Regions from separate parts of the Homo sapiens genome. Here region 2 is linked to region 1. Evidence: fine-mapped expression QTL. Tissue or cell type: unexposed skin. Region 1 holds a variant in brackets; the other region holds the start of a gene. All regions are shown on one strand. Distances are from middle to middle.

Region 1 (8,262 bases):
TATCTCACCCATGGAATTATGTATAAACTGGCAATATAATCCTTTATGCCATAATTTTTTTTCAGATTCCCATCCATCATGACTGCCATCCGACTACGAGAATTTATTGAGCGTCGCCCAGTGATCCCGCCAAGGTATAGTTCTTCCAGATGCACAGCCTCCGGGACTGAAGCCAGGCAGCCAGGTGCCTGGGGAGTTAGAATTGCACATCCTGCTGCTCAGTGGTCCAGAGACTACTGCCAGGGAGTTCTAGGGAAGCTCTTTGGATATTTCCTGATGAGCAGGTCTGTGCAAACCTACCGGCAAAAGTCAGAGGAAGCTGAGACGCCGAAGAAAGAGGCTGACAAATCCAGTTTCTTACAAAGAAATATTTAACAGGGACTTACGAACAGAAGCCATATATGTGTCTCGGGTAGCAGTGAGATGAGATGGTGGATGTCTGCGCCATTACCCCTGAGACCCAGGATTTAGATACCATAGGGGAAGAGTGATACAGAAGGGATATATGGGACAATTGAAGTACGATAACACCAATGTTGTTTGGCCGAAGGGCAGAACTTACAGTAAGTACCTGCTCTGACACCAGGAACTATAGAGAAACTGGAAATCTTAGAGGCCTGGGGTGATATGATTTGGTTGTGTCTCCACTCAAATCTCATCTTGAATTGTAGCTCCCATAATTCCTACGTGTCGTGGGAGGGACCTGGTGGGAGGTAACTGAACCATGGGGTGGGGTTTTCCCATGCTGTTCTCCTGACAGTGAATAAGTCTCACGAGATCTGATGGTTTTATAAGTGGGAGTTCCCCTGAACAAACTCTCTTGCCTGCCGCCATGGAAGACATGCCTTTCCTCCTCCTTTGCCTTCTGCCATGATTGTGAGGCCTCCCCAGCCGTGTGGAACTGTGAGTCCATTAAACCTCTTTTTCTTTATAAAATACCCAGTCTCGGGTATTTCTTCATAGCAGTATGAAAATGGGCTAATACAAGGGGTTAATCAGAAGCCAACATGGTGAATTAGCATCCAACATAGAGTTGCTCTAGCCTCCACATTGGGTTTAGGGAAAGTTGTAAGAAAAAGAAGCCTCACACTCACTGCAGAATCCAAGCAAACAGGCAACTCCAAATTCCCAAAAGACCAGAAGGATATTGGTTTTTGCTTGGGAAGAGCTTTAGTGAGAAGTCTGAGCAATCCAAGCCCACATTTTGGATTGGACCATTTTACTCTGCTTGTGGGAAAACAAACTGCTCCTGTGCTTCCTCTGATGAGAGCTGACGGCACAGATGGAAACTAAGGAGCTGTTTCGCTCTTTCTTCAAGGTCCTCTATGGCACAAGAATAACAAGCCCTAGATCTGTCTTGTTGTGCTAAATTTGGTATCAGATGACAGTCCGTAAATCCTAACCCCACTCCCCCTTCACCACCTCGACGGGTCTGCAGCAGTGTAGTAGCTATAAATTTGTGACAGCAACCTCACACCATGACATGGGGGTCAGCCTCCTGTAGCCCCGTTGGCTTTGTGGCTTTGAGCAAGCCTCGTGTTTAGTTTATTTTATTTTTATTTATTTATTAGAGACAAAGTCTGGCTCTGTTGCCCAGGCTGGAGTGAAGTGGCTGGATCATAGCTCAGTCCAACTTCAAACTCCTGGGCTCAACTGATCTTCCTGCTGCCTTAGTCTCCTGAGTAGCTAGGGCTACAAGCTGCCTGGCTAATTTTTAAATTTTTTGTAGAGACCAGGTCTCACTATGTTGCCCAGACTGTCTGGAACTCCTGGCCTCAAGCAGTCCTCCCACTTGGTATCACAAAGTGTGGGATTATGGGTGTGAGCCACAACACCCAGCCTCATGTTTATTTTAATATTGAGTTATTTTAGCCATGTTTGGTCAACAAAAGAGAAGTCCTTCTTCCAGAAACTACAGAAGGAGTGAATGGATGGATGTGTCCTTCCTGGCTACATCTTAAGAATTTTCTTTTAAGACCTGATGCAGTGGCTCGTGCCTGTAATCCCAGCACTTTGGGAGGCCAAGGCGGGTGGATCACTTGAGGTCAGGAGTTCGAGACCAGCCTGGCCAACATGGTGAAACCCTGTCTCTACTAAAAATACAAAAATTAGCCAGGCGTGGTGGCACACACCTGGAATCCCAGCTACTCGGGAAGCTGAGGCAGGAGAATCGCTTGAACCCAGGAGGCAGAGGTTGCGATGAGCCGAGATCGCACTACTGCACTCCAGTGTGGGCAACAGAATGAGACTCTGTCTCAAAAAAAAGAAAGAAAGAAAAACTAAACAGATAGAATAATTGGAAGTTGTGATAAAGGAAATGAAAAAGGGTGTGAGGGAGAATAATCAGGTGGAGAGGTAGGCAGAAGGAGAATACCTTCTCTAGCCAGGGTGTTCAGGGAACAGCTCTCTCAGCAGTTGTCAGCCGAGCATGATGCTGGGTGATAGGGGCAGGGGGTGGGAGAAGGGTGCGGTCTAGGGAGGAGGAAGTGCAGGTCCAAAATCCCTGATTCATGAAAGAAGCCATGACATGATGACACAGGGGCTGGAGCTGGGAGAAGGTTGGGACGGTAGAGGCAGGAGAAGTTCCCGGAGGGCTTTGTGGCCTACAATAGTGAGTCTGGGTTTTATGCTATTATACATGCAATGGGTTGAAGGGTTTTATGCAATGGAGGGCCCTGATCCGATTTACTTTTATGAAGCTCACTCTGAGAACAGATTGTCTGAGGACAAGAGTGGGGGTTATTGCAGAGAGCAGGGGGAGGCAATGGTGAGCTGGACCAAGGGGTGGCCGTGGGCTGGAGAAGCCGTCCCATGGGAGATCCAGCCTGGAGGGGGAATGCACGGACTTGCTGATTGGACCCACAGGTCAGGAGAGGCACACAGAGCTGCCTCACGGTGCGCACTATGGGCGGAGGGTGGGGGCAACAAGACTAGTTCAGGTGCAGGAAGAGCCGGAGCCGTCAGTGTGCCCCCCAACCCACGTGCGGCTCGGAGGACAAGCCCCAGAGAGCAGAAGACAGCCCAGCCTTAGGCCTCCAGGGGCCCCAGGGCCTGCTGTGCTCAGTTCCACCCAAACCCCCGGACTCCCGGCCAGGTCCAGACACCACAGAGCACTAGGCAGGAGTGGCCAATGGAGGTTTGTTTCCATTTTCCCCAGATAAGACCACAGTTAAATAGGCCTCTCAGTGAACAAAACAGATCTCAAACACACACAGAAAGAGCAAACGCTGTGGGGAGACAATCAGGAAATACTGGAGCCAACTCCATTCCTCTCTCCCCTGCTTCCTCCTCATCCGGGTTTCAGGAAGGAAAGGTTTTTGGTTTTTTGTTTTGTTTTGTTTTGTTTTTGTTTTTTTGAGACAAAGTCTTGCGCTGTCACCCAGGCTGGAGTGCAGTGGTATGATCTTGGTTCACTGCAACTTCTGCCTCCTGAGTTCAAGTGATTTTCATGCCTCAGCCTCTCGAGTGCTGGGACTACAGGCGCCCACCACCACACCTGGCTAATTTTTTATTTTTAGTAGAGACAAGGTTTCACCATGTTGGCCAGGCTGGTCTCGAACTCCTGACCTCAAATGATCCACTCAACTTGGCCTCCCAAAGTGCTGGGATTACAGGCTTGAGCCACTGCACCTGGCCTACTTTATCTGTTTCTTTATATCCTGCCTGTCTCACCCCCTGGAATAATAATGGTAAACACTTCTGAAGCTCTTACTCTGTGCCAAGCACTGTTCTAGGTGCATCTGAACTCCTTTAACCTTCACTACTGTGAGTTTCATATGAGGAAACCAAGGCACGGTGTGGTTAAATGACTGCCCCAGATCCCACAGCTACTGACTGGCGGACATGGGACTTAAACTCACGTCTGTGCTTGTGGTCACTGCATTTTGCCACATCTCCAGGTTAGCCCTCCAGGCAGGGCTTACTTCCCTTTCTCTGCAACTCACTATCATGACCTCTGCCTTGCAGATTACCATTCCTGGTAGGCCCTGTAGGCACGGTTGTTGAAAATATTGAAATGAATGAGTGAGCAAAGTTATCCAATCGTTTATGTGTGGTGTGTACCCCTGGTGACTGATGGCACCTGAGCCTGCCCTTGTGTGGTTCTGCACAAGCATGTATCCAATTCATCCTTAAATGGCCAAGCCTCAGAGCTACGCTACAGAAAACTGAGGTTTTGGGACACTAAATAAAAGTAAATATTAAATGGTTCACACTTAGTAGTGGCCACATAAAATTCTTGTATTCATCATCATATTGGCCGGGTGCGGTGGCTGACGCCAGTGATCCCAGCACTATGGCAGGCGAGGCAGGCGGATCATGAGGTCAAAAGATTGAGACCATCCTGGCCAACATGGTAAAACCCCGTCTCTACTAAAAATACAAAAAATTAGCAGGGCGTGATGGCACACACCTGTAGTCCCAGCCTCTCGGGAGGCTGAGGCAGGAGAATTGCTTGAACCTGGGAAGGCAGAGGTGGCAGTGAGCCAAGATTGCACCACTGCACTCCAGCCTGGCGACAGAGCCAGACTCCGTCTCAAAAAAAAAAATCATATTATATGCAACTGTTTACTGGTGCCATCCCCTGGCTACAGGCTGGAGGCCTGTCACTCAGAGAAGGGCTGGGTGTGGCATTGGTTTGTGGAACCCAGGATACTCCTGAAAAGATCACTTTAAGTGGATTAAATTCAGTGTGTTGTAGAAGATCGAAGATACAGAATTTGTGTGTGATTTAAATAGACTTTTAAAACTTTGATCGAAACAGTCTCTGAAGATCCAGAGGCAACTGTGTGGTCAGCCCATCCTGCGTGGGATGATATTGGAGCAGCGTCATTTCTCTGGGGTACAACCCGTGGTTCATTGCCACACGCCAAAGAAATCAAGGACGTGAACA[C/T]ACAAGGAGTGAGGTTAAGAGCGGAGGTTTAATAGGCTAAAGAAAGAGAAAATCTCTCTCTTACAGAGAGAGGGAGTCGCAGTGGGTCTTCTGGTCCCTGGTGAAGTGCAGGTTTTATAACCGAGCTTGAGGAGGTGGTGTCTGATTTACATAGGGCACGAAAGATTGGTTGGACCAGGTGTGCCATTTGCATAACGTGAGAAGAACTGGTTAGGACTAGGTGTGGTGTTTGCATAATGTGGGAAGAACTGGTTAGGACTAGGTGTGCTGTTTGCATGGCACGTGAAGAAGCTGGCCGCCCCACCCTAATCTTTTATTATGTAGATGGGTTCTCTGCCTAGCCGGGTCACGTTCAGTTGCCTGTTTTTGTTTGTACTATACACGTGGTGACAGAGAAAGGGGAAGATGGCGCCTCCATGTTGAACATGCTGGCCCTCAGGTAGCCCTTTTCTATGGGCACAGCTGCCAGCATTCACCCACACAAGTTTCCAGCTTGCTTATTCATGTCTGCAGCATGATTTTACAGGCTACTCTTTGTTAGAAAATAAATGACTTTGGGGCTGCTTTTTGTTAAAAGGGAAATTCCGCCGAGGACTCTGTTGCCCTTTCCATCTGCCTAAATAATTTCCATCTCCTGTATCAATACCAACACCTTGGGAGATGTTAGCCACCAAGTACAAATGTCTCGTTTACTCTCATGCAATCATTAAAGGAGAAGACAGTATCATTCCCATTTTACTGATGAGGAAACTGAGGCTCCCCACTCCCTTGAGGAGATTCTTGTGGAGCCGGCAGAGCCTGGGAGATGAGGGCACAGGTCTGGAGGCTTCCTAGTCCTTCCTTTAGTTCTGTCTTCTGGACTTACTAGCTCATGTCCTTAGCTAAGTTATTTACTTCCCCTGAGCCTCAGTTTCTTATCAGGCGTAGCACTCACCACATCGTCTGTGATTAGATAGTTGCCTAAACGTGGCTTTCCTGACCAGATTATGAACTCTTGAGTGGAAAGACAACATTGTCATCACTGTATCCCTAGTGCCTAGCCCACTGGAGGCACAGCAGAGCTTGCAGTGAGTGCTTTTCGTTGAGTTAAAAGCATCTTCCAGCTAACACTGCTGTGTCTTTATGGCTTTTCCTATTTTTTAGTGTACAATGTCTATTTGCTGTCTGCCCCAAAATGAGAGAATCACAGAGTTTGTATGAAAATAGCACTGAATTCTTATTAAAACAAATCATCACACATACCCTCGGGTGGCAGAATAGCGACATGGAGTTTGGAGAACTGGGTTTGATACACGGCGCTGGCATTTACTTGTTTAAGTGGACTTTACTACTTAAAAAGTCCACTTAACCCTTCTGAGACTTGGGCTATTCTTATAAAGCAGAGAGTTAATCATGTTTACCTTGCAAGGTGACTGTGAGGATTAAGTGAGATCATTTCTGTAAAAATGCTCTGTAGAGGATGAGCCCCAGCAGGGCCGTAACAGAGAAGAGCGTGGTCACAGGAACACAGGCTACCTGGGGCTGTGGGGCCAGGCTCTGGAGGGACCGACACCTCTGGCCTCTCCTATAGATATTGAATTTTGACTGTGGCTAAGCCCAGATCCCACTCCATTTACAGCCACCCTCCCAGGGAACAGGTTTGCTCTCATGTGGACTGAATACATCACCTCAAAAAGCCAAGCCATCAGGGACTCAAAATCACGCACGGTGCCTGCACCTGCCCAGTGAGAAGGAAAGGGCTTTCTACAGCTGGTTAAAACCCGGGTTCAACAGAATCACTCTGAGCAGAGCCCTGAGCTGGGCTGGCCTCCACAGCCAAGTCTGAAGAGTCCGCACGTGCTTTCACAATCATTCACTGAGGCCGGGTAATGCACAGCCTCTGGCCTGGCTAGACATTTCCCCTTAGGAGGTCAAAACTCTCTTCTCCACCCAGCCATCCCTCTCTCCACACCCATCTCCTTACACACACCTTCCCATTTTCTTTTCACTCCTCCCAAAACCTGCCAAGAGACACTGCCAAGGGGCGGTGGCAGGGAGGATTACTTGGTGCTGGTGCTGGGATTCTTTATCCTCAAATCAGCTTTTACTGACTGCTTCTAAGGAGCAGCGCTGAGTTTACTCACCTGTATTCAGCAGGTGTTTGTTTGTATGCACGCCATGGTCAAAACCCAGCCCACCGCCCACAGCCCAGCAACTGTAGAAACCAGCATCCTTTAGGTGGGTTCTTAAACTGTAATGTGGCCCTGGGGTAATATTCCAAGGTGGTGCTTCAGAAAATGGATAGGTGCCTAAGAAAGCTACGTGTCCCACCCCTGTGCATTCAGAAATGTCATTTGTTCCCTTTATTGTGCCAGTTCCTCTCTCTTCTTATGACTTAATACCCCATTGTTATTTACCATCCAGGGCTCAGTCATATTATCCCAGCCACTGGGCAGGCCCAGACAGCCTGTGGTTTTTCTGCAAATCAGAGCTCCCAGAGGTCGTCTTTGCACAGACAGAGACAGAACTCGCCCTGCTCAGTGCTTGCCTTTCATGCTAGACAGTCAGGCCCACTCTAGCCCTCATACACTCCACTCAGAACCTAATTCTGTCCATGTCTTGGCCCCTATAATTCCCTTTGCTTGGAATCTCTTCCCCAACCCCTTTGCTTATCCGAGTCCTAGATCTAGATACTCCTCCCTCTTCTGTGTCCTATGGACCCTTTATTCAGATCACTATTTCAGCATGTGAAGAGCTTTTTGAGGACAAGCGCTGCTTCTTAGTCAGCTTTGTATCTGCAGAGCCTAGCATAGTGCAGGGTGTTTTGTGTGCATTCAATAAATGTTGGTTGAGTCGAACTGAAGGCATAGTTTCAGTTTTCATCCATTATCTAACACATATTTAGTGAGATACGTTATGCAAAATGATGTGCTACTTTCTACTGACTCTGAATTTTTTTTTTTTTTTTTGAGATGGAGTCTCACTCTGTCCCCCAGGCTGGAGTGCAGTGGCACGATCTCAGCTCACTGCAAGCCCCACCTTCCAGGTTCACACCATTCTCCTGCCCCAGCCTCCCAAATAGCTGGGACTACAGGTGCCCGCCACCACACCTGGCTAATTTTTTGTATTTTTAGTAGAGACTGGGTTTCACCGCGTTAGCCAGGATGGTCTCGAACTCCTGACCTTGCGATCCGCCCGCCTTGGCCTCCCAAAGTGCTGGGATTACAGGCGCGAGCCCAGCCTCCTGACTTTGAATTTTTATGGCATCTACTGACTGCTCAGAATCTGTGGGACATCCCGAAAGACCCCACATGTCCAGGCATCACAAACTCAATAAAGTCACCTTCCCAATGATGGCCATTTATTGTGTTCCCTCTCTTGGGGAAAGGCAG
Region 2 (8,000 bases), 83 kb after region 1:
CAATTGTTATAAACCTGGAAGAATGGCTTACCTTAAATGCTAATTACCTACTATCCTTAAAATTATGGGAAGTAGTCTGGCAGATCATTTTAGCTGTACAAGGTCAAGGCATTAAATAATACTAACGTTATTTTCTTTTAAATTATCTTTCACCTTTTCTATTTCAAGGAGAAAGTTTTAGTTTGCTGCTGATATGTCTTTTATGCTTCTTTAACACTAATAGTGGTTTCAGATCTTCAGCAGATACTTGTATCTAGCTAGAAAATAGTAATATTTTTTCAGTATGTTTATTTTTATAGCAAGCTTTTATAAACATATATCAAGTGATGGGGTGTGCTTTCCCTTATGACTAACTTTAGTATTTTCTCTTTTTATTGACTTTGAAGCCTTGGAGAGAATACACACGGAACACTGCTCTAGCCTTTCCCGATCACAGGCAACTTCATGTGTGTCATTATAACCAAGACCACCGAAGTTACTTTCCTCAAGAACAATAAATAAGTAAGCCTTTGCTTAAAGCCTGGTATAAACTACTATAGTTAAGAAGTTTCTGTAGCTTCTACTCAGCAAAATACAGAAAACAAAGCACAGTATTTTACTTTGAGAGAACTGGGGAAAAAACAGTATTAGGCTTCCTTTTGTGATGCCAGAAAGGGACTTTCTTGGTCCCATACTTTAACCTCTTGAGAAACGTATTAGACTAGTACCTTTCTCCATCCCGACCTTCTCAACACTTTTGCTTACACAGCAGTTGTCCCCCAGATTGTGAGCTCCTTGTGGGCACAATCCCTGCCTTTTTCAGATTTTTGACTCCCAGGCTAAGTGATCCCCTGCAGATACTCAATGTTTACTAGATGAATGACCTGTACCCAGGGTTGGGCCTCTATTTAATTCTTCTCTCTTCTTCTTAAAATAAATATTGATTTAAAATTAAGGCAGCAGTAGTGGTTGTCCTTTGATGCAAGTCCTACATATTTATGGATCTGGGGAACCTACCAAGTTATAAATAACTCCCCATAAATCCTGAATCTGAACAACACAGGCCTTAAGCGCTGTTAAGAGTGAAAACGCCACTAGGTTTGCATCTATTGTTTCCAAAAAGGCATTTTATACATTAAAATTTATCATTAAATGCAATGCCAGTTTTTCTTTTTAAAACTATATTTTATGTTGGGAGAAAGTCCTTATGAGTCTACTGGTGAAATACGGATACATTATGTGTACATCACTTCTGGAGAAACAGTACTGAATAAAATTTGAACTCATGACATAAATATGGCAGAATATATTAAACTCTAACAAAGGACATATTTTCACTAACACACAAAACTTAAGACATCAAACAAGGCAATCCAAGCTCACAATGTCTTACTGTTGATTTTTTCCAGCTCTCTATACACACTCACTAAGAACTTCAACATTCCAATTTTATAACCTAGGGGAACTTCATTAAGTAGATGCCAGCTTACTAGGGCTAACCAAATAATACAAAGTTACCAAGGTAAATCACAAAAGAGATAATGCTTAAATCTATTCATTACTCATCTATTTTTTGCTAACAAGACTAATAAAGAATCCTAATGATACACTTTTAAAAAGCACTAAAAGAACATAAGGATTCTATAAGGAAGGTAGTTAAGTCAAAAATACACAGGTGAGGGAAGTCTGCCCAACAAGGCCCCTCATTTGTTTCTCCACTATCTTCAGCTAACATTTTAAAGCCAAACTTAGTTCCTTCTCAATCACTTCTCTAGCCTTTCCAAGGGCATCAGATCAGGTTGGTCCATGACTTCAAGACTACTTTCTCGGTAACATTAGTAACACCTTCTCCAAGCTACAAACTACTTCTAATATTTCTCCATAGAATATTAAAATTGAGGATCCTTTAGAATAAATACCATAATGGTTGTGTTCTCCAAACCTTCTTACAACCCATAGTGTAGCTCAACCTGAGCTATTTCCATATTAACGAGATGTCAAGATGTCAGTGAAGGAGACACACAGGCCTCAGCCTCTCTCCCGCTGTCGACAGCAAGAAAGCTCGGTATTCGGATACGTCTTCCCCACAGCATGACCAGATCTGAATGTAAGACAAAAGGTAGGTAAAGGCTGGATTTCTGGAGTATTTCCTAAGAAAGTGCGGGGCAGGAATTTAATGGCAACACCCTGAAGATTGCTAAGGTACAAAGTGTGTTGCCAGAGGGGTGGAGAAATAATAGGCTGGAAGGGAAGGAGGGAGAGGTGGTAGTGACAGTTTCCTAAGAGGCAATTAGTGCAACAGCTATTTCAGAATGGGCAGGGTGGATTTCTAAATGAAAACAAAACAAAACGAAACAAGGTAAATCAGAGAATATTTGCAGTATTTGCATTTAGCTTTTTAACATACCTGTGATTTCATTGTTTCTGCATGCTCAAAATGGTATTCAAGGGGGCCTATAACTTACTAGAACATATACAGCATGGCACCATCATATCATGCCATGCATGTTCAAAAACAAATATTCTTGCAACCTAAACAGATAGCAGTTAACTTCAAATATTACATTATGCTTTGTTTTGAAAGTGGTTATTGCTCATCTGCTTAGAATTTTGAAACTGGAGAGAGTTATCTGAGAGCCTTTACAAAGGCCTTACCCTGTATGCTGCGTCAAAGGAAACGACAAATAGGAAGAAAGGTTACACTGAAAACCACGTGTCTCCCGTTAGAAGTACATTACCACCTCGTTTTCCGAAAGTTCACTTTCGATGTCACCTTAACAATGCAAATATTTATTTCCAAATACTCAATTTGACATCCATGTATTTACTTCCCTCACTTTTTTTGAACAGAGAAGGGATTCCTTCCTCTGGGACCAACTAGTAAAAGTAATTTCTCCTTAACTTTCATGTATGGAGCACACTGTAAAAACAAAAACAAAAACAAGAAACTCAGGGCCCTAAAACAACAGTCCAAAGCCCAGAGGTGGGTGGGTTTGGATGTCAACAAAGTGGACCAGAGGAAGCAAAGCACTGCATGCCACGGTCCTGCAGATGGGGGATCGGTGAGTCTGATTTCAGGACGTTTCGAAACAATCCACTCCCACTCCGCCGCCCTGGGCGGGGCGGGGGGGCGGTGATGGGGGGTTCTGCCGTCGCGCCGGGTCTCCGCCCGCAGTCGGAAGAGTTGGGAGCAGGCCTCGGGCGGTAGCTCCTCAAACTCGGACCGCATCCCACCTCCACCCCGGCCTCAGTCCCGGCGCTGAGCACCACTCGCCAGACGCAAAACTGCAACTGCCAGGCATCGCGCATCTCTCAAAGGCTCCCCGCCAGCCCACCTCTTCCTCCAGGGCCACCCCAAGTTTCACCCGACGCTCCAGGTCAGGGGTCCCCGACCTCCCGCCATTTCTCCACGTAGCCGCAGCTCAGGACAGGAGGAGAGAGCCTCAAGGTGACACCTCATTTTGGCCAGTGGATCCGGGTTCTGGGTCCGAGTTCCCGGGCACCAGGAGCCAGGCAGCCCGAGCTCCCGGGCCCGGCTTCCCATGAGAGGCCCCGTCGCCTCACCTGGCAGCGGCACACGATGTCGGCGTCCTGCGCCAGCAGGTCCACCACCTTCCCTTTGCCTTCGTCGCCCCACTGCGCACCGAGCACCACCGTCACCCGGTTTCCTCCGGGCCGCGCCCTGGGGCGGCCGCAATCGCCGTTGGGCAGGGAGGATGCCGCCGGGTAGGTCTCGGCGAACGCCATGGCTCCAGTGACGCGAGGAGAGCCCGAAGGAGAGGCGGCCGGCGAGGAGTGAGCGAACTGAACTGCTCTGCGGCCGCCAGCCACATGCAGAGGAAGAAGGAGCCAGAGGCCGGCCCCGCCCCCGCCCCGCCGGGCCGCCACCCTCCAGCCAGTCCCCGCCCCGCTCTCCGCCACAGCCCGCTCAAGGGGGTACCATGACTGCCCCGCGCAGGCCGGCCTCGGCAGCACCGCCCGCAGGAAGAGGCCCTGGTGGCGGCAACGGCCGCCACCCCGGACCGAGGCCACGCCCCTTCCGCGGCCTGGCGCGCCACTCCCGTGCAAACCTCGCGAGCGGAAAAGGTCAGGGGCGGGGCTTCGAGAGCGCTTCTCCTTCAGCACCCCGCCTACCCGCTCTACCTCTCGCTTTCAAACTGGAGAGGCGCGGAAGCGCGTGTGGAGCGTCGGACTACAAATCCCAGCATGCAACGCTCTGGGCTGCGGCGGTGTATTCTGGGGCCACTGTGTCTGCCATCTGCAGGTTTGTCTGGATTTGTCTTTATTAAGGAATGAATGTGTACAAAATACAAACTGTGGAATTTCGCAGTACAAACAGCATAAAATCGGAACGTGTAAGTGTAGAATTGGAAATTAAAAGTCCGGAAGTAACAGAGATGGGGACAGGGATCAAAAAAGACAAAATTCAAAAGTAAGGCAATAAGATAAAGGACATGAGACCTGAAATCAATAGATCAAATAAAGTCCTAATCCTCATTTTACATAGTAGTAACAAAGGCTCAGAGAGGAGGAGTGGATTACCTATGTCGCATATAGTACATATATGCAGATACCGTCATGCACTTCTTTATTTTTTAATCCCCACAACCATATAAGGTAGGTGATCCTCTATTATCCTTATTTTACAGGATTTAAAAGCTGGGTAACTTGCCCTAGTGAGGCTTGAATTGGTACTTCGATAATCTAAGTCCAGAGCCCATGTCCTTCCTGTAGATTCCACTGTCTCTCAGTTACATTTGTAACTAGATTCTGGTGTATACCTACTGTTCATCTAATGCCCTTTCGACACCAACACAAATTAACTATGATGTTTAATTCTGATAAAAGGTGCTTCGAAAAAAAGTGGGAATGGAATCACATTATATGTACCGTCTCCCAAATCGCCTGTACATACTGTATGTTCACTAATGGTCCCTAGAGTACACTTTAGTATTTTATTTCTAGTCAATGAGTTAAGTCAGGAACATTGAGAACCTGCTATTAACTAACTAAGTGTCCTGGGCACTGATAACATAGGAGAAATAAAGATACAATTCAGCCCTCAAGGATTCAAATTATTTGGTCTATTGATTAGTAAACAATTATAATACTATGTGATAATTGTTGTCTATCTTGGCCTTATTACAAGATCACAAACATTTTGGAAACAAGAATGCCATCTATTTCTTTCTAGTCAAATGCCCGAGGTAGTGTTGGGCAGATAGTAGATACTGAATAAGCACACCTTACTAGTCATTTCCATTCAATTTTTTAAAATCATTTATGGGAGACTGATTTGAGTAATAATAAAACTCTGGTTTCCTGCACAGCCAGCTCTACATGAATTACTCTTTCTCTATTGCCATTTGCCTGTCTTGATGAATTGGCTCTGTCTAGGCAGTGGACAAGGTGAACCCCTTGGGCGGTTACAAATTTGGGGGCTTGTCTGGCATTGCCTTTGTGGCTACCTACTCGTGGTTCAGTGGCCCCCCTCCAGCAATGGATCCAGAAGCCTGCCCAAGCGGCCACCCAGTTCTCTTGGACTGGGGGCTGACTCTGGTACTCTCTCTACTGGTGGGGTGCTGCCAACCCAGTGTGCATGGATTTAATTGCAATGGAGAAATAGCCCCGGGGAGACGTCCCTTAACTGTAACCCTATCACAGGGTGTCTGTCTGTAGCCCCATTGCAGGGCAGGGTGTCTGGATTGGTGAGTATCCTAGGTGCTGCCAACGCCTCCTTTCTCCCAACTGGTTCTGTAGCCCTATGGTGAGGTGTCTGTAGCCCCATTGCAGGGTGTCTGTTCGGCTCCTGGGGGGGTCTCATTTGGCTCTTTCTAACTAGTAGGAAGAGTCCAGGTTTGGGAGACTTCTCCTGAATCAGGAAGATTTCAAGGAGGTTTCTCAGAAGGAGAATAGGAGGATAGTTTGGAAGGGATACTCCCGGAGTTCTTGGTTAGGGATCTGATTGGGAACGCCTTCTGTCCTCTCGTCTTTGTGTGCGTTTGTATATGTGGAAGGGATCTCAGAAGAGGTTGCTGATGGAAGTCCAGCAGACCTAACTCAAAACCCTCCTTATTTGTCTGGTCACATTTGATGAGCCCTACAGAAGGCTCAACAGGCCTGTCTCGGGGTGACTATCTGCTCTTCGTCTTGCCCAGAGACCCCATTGTGAATTACCGTTCGGAGGTCATCCCTCCCCACCTGGAGTGGATCAAAGACAACAGGGACCAAAGAGAAAAAGTTTTTGAGCTTTGCCAGGCTGATATTGGGAGCTGAACGAGGTGGCTAATGTGTGTTTTGTTATGTGTGTTTTGCTGGGATGGAAAATGTTAATTCGGTTCCCCATGCAGCCCGCTGGGCAGCATCTTGCAAATTAAGAATCTCGTCTATGTTTCCATAAAACAGTAAAGGGTGATTTTCTCTTGTAAAGTGGCTTGAACCCCACAGCTATAGCACAAGCAAGCAGGGTCATCAAAAGCCACTCCATTCTTCTGGAAACTGCAGAGAAAGGGAACCCGGAAATCTGGTATGCCGGCACAGAGGGTATGAAATTCTTACCGGACCGGTTTGTGGTCTCTCTCTCTCTTTCTCAGTAAATAGTAAACTGTTTACCTCCTCTGCAAGGGTTTGATAAATGGAAAAAAGGATTTGTGAGACTAGTCTTAGGCTGTAGCAAATCTGGTGTAGTTTTGTGCTAAGAATTTGTCTTTCTGTGTTCTGTAGTGGATAGATGGGTGTCACAGGATAGAACGTGGGTTTAGGACCCCTATAAGCCTGCTTTTCAAGCCGGCTTGGCAGGCTGGTCAGTTACAAACTTTGCTACAGGTCCCTGAAGCCAATACTGTATGAAATTTCTCTGTCTTGTTTTGTGTCCTGAAGAGCTTAACTTTGTGACCATGTGGAGATACTTTCTCTTGGTTTCCACCATCTAGAAGACAGGAATTTGGGGATTTTTAGGTTAGCCCTAAGAATTTTCTTGAGCAGTTAAAAGCCTTTGCAAGCTTGAAACTGGCTTCTGTAGGCTCCTTCTGGGAAGCACAATAGAAACTGCTCAATACTGTGTAACTCAGTAGCTAAGGTTTTGCCTCTTGACAGTGGGGGGTCTGGGTTCTATTCCTGGCTTCTGGAATGATTCCCTTCTGGTTTTTTATTTCTGTAACTTTGCCATTTATTGAGGTTCCCGCGTCCCCCCGCTCCCATGAATAGCTTCTGATTTCCTGTCTTGAATTTTCCTTTCTCTAAACTACCCTGGGGGAGATTCTACATCTTGTAGAAAAAAAAACTGCTTACCATCTCTTTGAGACACCTGTGTGTCCATGGTTATAAACTTAGTTAAAACTTAATTTCAGGTGGGAAGTTACCTGTGGTAGAATTCAAAAGCCAAAAATATTGGCCGCTTGGCGTGGCTAAAGTTGGGTATAAAATTTTTAAGGGTTTTTTTTTTTTTTTAAAGAGCGCTATGGTTAAAAGTCAGCTTAATTAAAAGTGGATAAACAAGCTGTAGGTATATTTAAAAGGCCTTTATGTTTCTCTCTTCTTGGATCTTGTTTTTCTGGAAAAAGATTATTTTTCTGGAAAAAGGTCTTTTTTTCCTTCTCAGTCAACTGAATTATTTTCCTCCACTTTTTTGTTTTGCCTATCTTAATGTACACATGAGAGGCCCTGAGATAGCTTCTGGTAGCCTGGGACTCCTTGGGAAAAACAGGAGGCACCACAGACCCCGTTTTGGAAAAAAGCTCTGTTTTCCTCATGAAACCCCAAGAATTAAAAGCAGACAGATCCCTCTCAAAATCCAAGGCTCTATTCTGTTTTGCATTGTGTTATCTGACGGTTTTGAGTTTTAGGGGCATCAGAAATTACTTCTCATTCTGAGAGAGCTTTGGTGTATAACAACTAGGTAGGAAATATACTTTAGGAGTTGGCTAATAGTAGTTACGGAGGCATACTTGGCTCTTCGCACACTTGGATCAGAGAAGCATGCTTTGGCCACCTGGAAGACATGGAAACACCCCCCCGCCCCC

What was found. PIP is the estimated chance that this variant, and not a neighbour inherited with it, causes the effect.
Region 2: ADSS2 starts here. The variant in region 1 is fine-mapped to the expression of ADSS2 in unexposed skin (GTEx, PIP above 0.99).

The regions. Positions count from the first base shown.
Region 1 is chr1:244,364,623-244,372,884 of GRCh38, forward strand. It overlaps SPMIP3 (sperm microtubule inner protein 3), which reads left to right. Exons shown (of 5, transcript NM_001012970.3): 2 at 66-134. The coding sequence starts at 79. Among named protein-coding and RNA genes, the nearest start is that of SPMIP3, 16 kb to the left of the region's middle. The variant C/T (reference allele first, on the strand shown) is at 4,892.
Region 2 is chr1:244,448,092-244,456,091 of GRCh38, forward strand. It overlaps ADSS2 (adenylosuccinate synthase 2), which reads right to left and starts at 3,818. Exons shown (of 13, transcript NM_001126.5): 1 at 3,544-3,818. The coding sequence starts at 3,726. It also overlaps a transcript of CATSPERE not described here. RefSeq lists silencers at 2,998-3,277, 3,718-4,207.